Linked DNA regions of Homo sapiens. The protein of the gene in region 2 interacts with the protein of the main gene of each other region in a pairwise test. Each region holds a gene or a part of one and is shown on either strand. Other genes may lie near its edges. The genes, in order: RAPGEF3 and OARD1.

The links.
Region 1: the proteins of OARD1 (region 2) and RAPGEF3 interact in a two-hybrid assay, tested with the Homo sapiens proteins (one large-scale study listed by BioGRID).

What each region holds. Positions count from the first base shown.
Region 1 is NC_000012.12:47,741,845-47,745,668, reverse strand, and holds part of RAPGEF3 (rap guanine nucleotide exchange factor 3), read left to right. Parts: intron 1-1,600; coding exon 1,601-1,682; intron 1,683-1,992; coding exon 1,993-2,139; intron 2,140-3,824. UniProt on the Homo sapiens protein: Guanine nucleotide exchange factor (GEF) for RAP1A and RAP2A small GTPases that is activated by binding cAMP.
Region 2 is NC_000006.12:41,066,514-41,069,379, forward strand, and holds part of OARD1 (ADP-ribose glycohydrolase OARD1), read right to left. Parts: intron 2,441-2,866; coding exon 2,328-2,440; intron 925-2,327; coding exon 822-924; 3' UTR 1-821. UniProt on the Homo sapiens protein: ADP-ribose glycohydrolase that hydrolyzes ADP-ribose and acts on different substrates, such as proteins ADP-ribosylated on glutamate and O-acetyl-ADP-D-ribose.

The DNA.
Region 1 (3,824 bases), on a different chromosome or scaffold from region 2:
TGTAGTCCGCTCCTGAAAACGGGAGGGGAAGAGCCAACTCCAGTGCAGATTCAGGGAAAGTGTCCCGTGTAAGCGACTACTGGAGTTGAGAGCTGCAGGGGGCAAGGGTGGAGGAAGAAGAGGATTCCTGGTGGGCAAACCCAGGAGGAAAGGGAACCCAGGAGGAGGATCCCTGGAGGAGCGAGAGTAAGAGTAGGACCCCAGAGCAGGCAGGAGGTGGGCAGGGCCCCCTGGGCCAAGGACAGGGGTCTGATCTTTGTCCTAAGAGCAGTGCAAACCATTAAAGGGGTTTGAGCCAAGGTTGGCAAAGTCTGATTTGTGTTTTGAATAGGTCAGCTAAAGAGCCTGGGCTTTCTCCAGCAGACAATGGACGCCACTGAAGTCGAGTGCGGGAGCTTCACAGGGCTCTGGTCAGGCAGATTGGAGGAGGAGGGCTGGAGGCACCTGGGAGGGAGGAGGAGGAGCATAGTTGGGCCATTGGAGTAGATAAGGAGTGAGGCCTCGTGGGCAGGTGGAACTGGAGTTAGCCTGGGCAGGGGAGGAGGGGGCACAGAAGACCCACTTCAAAGAAGAATCTTCAAAGCAAGATGACAAGCTACGGAAGTGTGGAGGAGCCTGGAGCTGGGGAGAATGGCTGGGGAACAGAGTGGTCTGGGAGGCAGGATGCAAGGATCCGATGGGTATATGGAGTGTGAGGTAATGGATCATTCATGTGGAAGGATGCAGGGGGTTTTTGAGACCAGGGTTTGGAAGAGAGTTCAGCACTGCTGGTAGTTTTGGGAATCACCCATGTGCAGGCGACACATGAGGCAGTAAGGAACTCTGCAGGGGTCCCTGAGATTTGGAAATGTAGGGAAGAGCAATGGATTGAGGTCCGAACCTGGAGGATCTGCTATACGCAGAGCTGGGAGGAGGGACAGAGTCAGTACCAGAGTCGGAAAAAAGCAGGGTGGGAAGGGGAACCTGAGTCAGGAGACTTGCCTGGCAGGCGCTGCCCTGCCAGCAGAGGCCTGACAGTGGTTTCCATGAACTGCATCCCTGCTGTGGGCTGGGACAGGGCCACTGACACAGTATCGGAGCACAGAGGGGGAAAGGAGCAGGAGGGATTCCAACTCTGCCAGTTAGCAGCTGTGTGGCTTTGGGCATGTTACTTAACCTCTCTGAGCCTCATTTATTTCATCCATAAAATGGAAATAAAAATAATACTTTTGTCAAAGGCGCATTGTGAATATTTAGATCCTCAGAATAATGCCTGGCTTGTAGCAAATGGTAGCTGGAGGAAAAGGAAGAGAAAACCAAAGTCAGCAGCTGAAGGATTTTCATATTAGAACTGCTCTGGACCTATCTGGCAGATGCAGAAGCACACACACACGGAGGGGCATGGATTTGCCCCGCCCTTAGACATGTTGTGTCTTCTCCTGGATCCTTGGTCCCAGGTGCCTTACCTGAGCTCAGGTGAATGTGGCAAGCAGAGCCCTCTGGTGGTGTGAATGCTGTGTGGCGCCCGTGCTCCTGGTGACACAGGGACCTCACAATCCCTCCCTCCACGGTCTCCTCTCATGTCCTCCCAGCCTTATTTTCTCGTTCCTCTTCCTCCCAGGCCCGGAACTTGCCTGTTTGGCTCCCCAACCAGGACGAGCCCCTTCCTGGCAGCAGCTGTGCCATCCAAGTTGGGGATAAAGGTTGGTGGTCTGTGCCGGCTGGGCACAGCCCGACATCTGCACCCTGCTGTCTCTGCCTCTCTTGTCCTGCTGTCGTCACTCTTGACCTCGGTGTGCCTGGGCCAAGGTGGCACGCTGTACTCCTCAGGGTCTGTGTTCCAGGCTGCTGGCTAGATCTGCCTCCTACCTGCCTCTTTTTTGCTCAGGGCCTCCCCACCTGCAGCTCAGCCTCTTGGGGATCCCTCCCACCATTACTGCAATAGCCGCCCTCTCCCTCCTGGGGTGGAGATCAGGCAGCCCTTCCCACAGCTCAGTCTGGTCTCCTCTTCAGTCCCCTATGACATCTGCCGGCCAGACCACTCAGTGTTGACCCTGCAGCTGCCTGTGACAGCCTCCGTGAGAGAGGTGATGGCAGCGTTGGCCCAGGAGGATGGCTGGACCAAGGGGCAGGTGCTGGTGAAGGTCAATTCTGCAGGTGGTGAGTTGTGCCCCTGGATAGACCCCAAGGGAGGGTGGCCCCTCGGATCTGCGCCCAGGTCCCCCAGTCAAGATCATTGTCATCATTGTCATCTTTCTGGTCTTCCTCAGTGTGAATGATGGCTAGCATTAATGGGAGGTGGAGTGCGTCTGTTCGAAGTGCATTTCATGCAGTGTGTAAGAGCATGAGCTCTGGAGCCTGCTGCTTGCATTCGGCACCAGCCCTTTAGCTCACCATCTGTGTGTCCTCTGGCAGGGTACTTCATCCCTCTGTGCTCAGTTTTATCATCCATAAAATGGGAATAGTAGGAGTACTTGCCTCCTGGAGGAATTGTGAGGATCAATTGAGTTCATCTATGAAAGCATTTAGAATGGTGCCCGGCACATAGTGATACATAAGTATTAGCTGCTATTATTATCATCATTTGTGTTTAGTCATTTAATATGAATTAATAACAATCTCATGAGATACAGGTACTTTTATCCTATTTTCAGACAAGAACACTGAAGCTCAAAGGGCATGAGCTATTCCTCAAGCTCACACAGTGAGAGTAGCTGGTCTTGGAACTTAAGTAGTCTTCATTTGTTTAGTCACTCAGCAAACATTTTTGAGGATCAGCTATGAGCCAGCAATATGTTAGGAGCTGGAGATACCACAGCAGGTAAAACAGGTCAGCTTGATGGTTAAGAGCATAGACGGTGGACTCCCAGACCCGTGAAGGCATCTTAGGCTCACCATTTACTAGCTGTGTGATGCTGGGCAAGTTGCTTAACCTCTCTGAGCCTGCATTTCCTCACCTGTCAGATGAGGACTGTAATTGTATCTACCCACAGGGTTGCAATGGCTAAGTGAGCTAATGTGTGTAAAGCACTTAGCACAGGGCCTGCCAGTCAGTGCTGAGAACATGGCGGGCTCAGGAGTATTAAGATGGGCCTCCAGAGAACCTGGAACATTCAAAACCACTGTTCTCTGCGGAGGGCACGGGCTTGACAGCTGGAACCCAGGGCAGACAAGAATTAGGGGCGTTCAAGAAGTGGGGATGAGAAAAGAAAAGCCTTCTCCCTTCAGGAAGTGGGGAGAGATGGTCACCTGTGTGCCCTGCCCTGGGAAGCACTGCCCTCTGCTGGCCACCTGGTGAGTTGCAGTTGCCCAAAGGTCATGTTTATTGAGACCCTACTATGTGCCAGGCACTGTTTAGAGCACTGATCTCCGAAGCACTTGGATCGACACCCATGTCAATAACCAACATTTAATTAAAACCCACACCCCACTGTGTGAATATTTGTTTGTAAGTAATACACATATATTACTACATTAATATCATAATAAAGATAGATAAAATAGAAATTGATGGAGTAGAAATGCAAAGCAGGTAGAAAAAGTAAACGTAAGTAGAAGAGCTCATATTTTCCCCAGGCACATGGATGATCTGATGTACCTTACTTTGGAGGCCACTGCTCTAGGGACTGGGGACTCAAGCACAGTCCCAGTCCATGAGGAGCTGATGAAAATCAACACCAAGGCTTATATAAGACACTTCCCAATTTTCAAAGGGCTTTTATACATAGCATGTACTTATAGCTACTATTTATATACATTATTTTATTTGACTTATGAAATAGTTGGGGCAAGTCTTATTGTCTCCATTTTACCAGGGAAGAAAGTGAGGCTGAGGGAGGCTCAGA
Region 2 (2,866 bases):
TACTCTGCCAGGCATTTAACATACATTATTTCACTTGTTTTCATGATTAAATTCAGGCAGGTTCAATCACAGAAACCATGCAGTGGACAAAAGAGAGAAAAAGTTCACCATGAGGAGATTCTAAAAACCTGCCTTTTGACTTGTCTATTTTTATCTCTTATTTCTCACTTTGCTTCTCCTCCCGCTTGGACCCTTTGTCTGACTGTTTGAAATTAAGTTGCAGGTGAACCCTCCATTACCCATGTCCAGAACAAATAGACATAAGCACAGAACCTCACTAACTCCCCAAATTTTTATTTTTCCATTTTTATCACCACAAATTTCTTGGTAACAATGTAGAATTTAATTTTGTAATTAAAACAAAAACTCTCCCCTAGGAGGAATCTGATGACATAAGGATAACACCAAGTTATGTGCACAAACGACAAAAAATGCCAAACTAACTGGAATGATCATCCTTCCTGAAATTTCTCTTAAAAAGCAGAGAAGTAGAACCAATGCTGCCACCTAGTGGCCAGCCAAACAAATCAGGTAGCATACTGGAGAAAAAGGTCATAGTCCCGACAATCTGGTTTCCCTGCCTATTATCAAGCCACCTAACTCCTTACTTTTCCACAAAAAAACACAACCACATATCTTAAGCAAGCCCTCCTCCACAGTCATAATCCAAATACTTGAATACAGCAACCAAAGTCTGTCTTGTTAAACACACTACTTCTCATGAAACTTTCCTCTGCCTATTTTAAGGTAGGTTTGCCCGGTCCTATGGCCCAGTAGAGATGACACAGGAGAACACGGAAACATCCAAAATGTTCACTGGTTCAGAGTGTGTACACAGTAATTTTGATGTCTGTTGCCTCAAATACCTCCTCGATCATCGCAGATACATTTTCCCATTGCAGACGATCAAGACCACATCCAATCCTGAAAAAGACAAAATATCTCCATTGATGGTAACGAAAGTATCTAGGAAACTGCTCCTCTCTTTTAAGCTATATCCACTCAAAGCATAAAAACAAATAATCTAGTCTGACACCCTTATGGGCAACCATGGTAGGAGTTTGGAAGTCAATTCTTGTTGTGAGTCACCGAAGACCATTCCTAGACAGCTCTAACATCCAAAAACTATCACTTCTGTTTGCCTAATAAGATACTACTTTCCAACTATTTCATGCTACATTTAGAAATGTGTAACTGTCATGACATTAGAGACTCATTATCCCTCTATGACTACTGACTAAAATTGGCTGTGGATGGATGGTGAAAGGTTGGTATTTTAAAAATGCACTTATGGTAACAGAATGTTAACGAAAGTAAGGAGAAGAGGAATGAGGTACAGGATCTGCAAAAAAGAAAGTCAAGAGGGAATGCTGGGAAATGGTAAGATAGTTGCAATCCAGGAGTAAGGTCTTTGCAACACCCTGGTAAGAATAAACTCAGTCCATAAAACTCTACTACTTGGCACCTTCCAAGATGTTACTCTAGTGATCCTCAACACGCCTAGGGAAAAAAGAGACCTAAAATTGGTAATTTCATGTCATAATGTGATAATTAAGTCCATAAGGAATTGTGATTAAAAAAAAAGTTTCTGATATGTATGTACACCATAAATATATCAAAGACCAGTGTAAAATAAGGGACATTTGAGGCCATATGCAAAGTAATGTGGGGCGCAAGATAAAACTGCATGTATGCTCAGCATTGACTCAAAACTACCAGGGTGACAGGAAGAAAAGAGGTGAGGCCCATTTCCTGAAAAGAAAGCAAAGGGACTACTGAACCCTCAATGTCATTCCCTAAATTCCCAATAGCTAAAGTCTAAGAAGTTACATCAGGGACAGATCCTCTGGCTATTACCCATACTGACCAAAACAAGTGTGCAGTATAAAAGGGAATGATAATTTACAACTTTCTTGACGCAAAGTAATAGGTTTGGGAGATGGGAAGTGGTCCAAGAGGAAAACCACCATTGCTCAGTCTTGATTCTTTAGCTTACATTGCTTTAGGAATAAAGGCCAAGCTTCAAGCAGAGGGTGCTGAGAATTCAACAAATGTAGCTGAATGACAATGGTCGCTCTCTGCTAAGCAGGCTGAGGCAGATGTATATTTCAAGGTAATTGTCCTGATTCATTCAACTCAAGCTAGAAAATGGCTGTGCCTTAGTCTAAAGCCAGACAACTGGTTCACTGGTGGTTTTACAAAATTTTGACTTTTGTCCACCTTTAAATCTATATTTTGGGTTAAGCTTTTAAGTTGTTTGTCTTTGGGTAAGATAGTAAACCCCACCAATCAATTAAATCTCCATTTAGGACCATGGATTTCCTTGCCTGGGCATGGAGAGGTCAGTGACTCCATTCTTCAGACAATGAGACTTCATTGCCTCTAAACTCTTCTGTAAGTTTTCATAAGTTGGCTTGTGCGAAGCCCTTTTCTTTGTAATCTGAACACAAAGGATTCAAACTTTCATCATCCCAAAATGATAGCCAAAGAAAAGTCATCACATTCCCCCAACATCCCAATAATTAAAAGAGTAAGCACATTTTTATAGAATTAGTCTAGAGCAAGGATGACAAATGTCATATTGCCCTTTCCACACTGTTATGGGAGACCTTCAAGAAAATCCACTAAATAGAGGCTGAGAAACCCAGACTCTGCCACGTAGCAATCTTTCCTTTTCCTAGGAAACCCATGAGATTAGCAGATGATGCCTATTGTCAATATTTTTAAGCAAGGTAGGTGAAGTCTCTGTGCCACTTCCAAGAGATAAGCTGCATATCTCTAACAGGGAAGAAAGCATACCACCTGAAAATTCCCTGCTAAAAGCCTCTACTTATTTAGAAACTGTGCTTGCTTGCTTTTTGTCTCT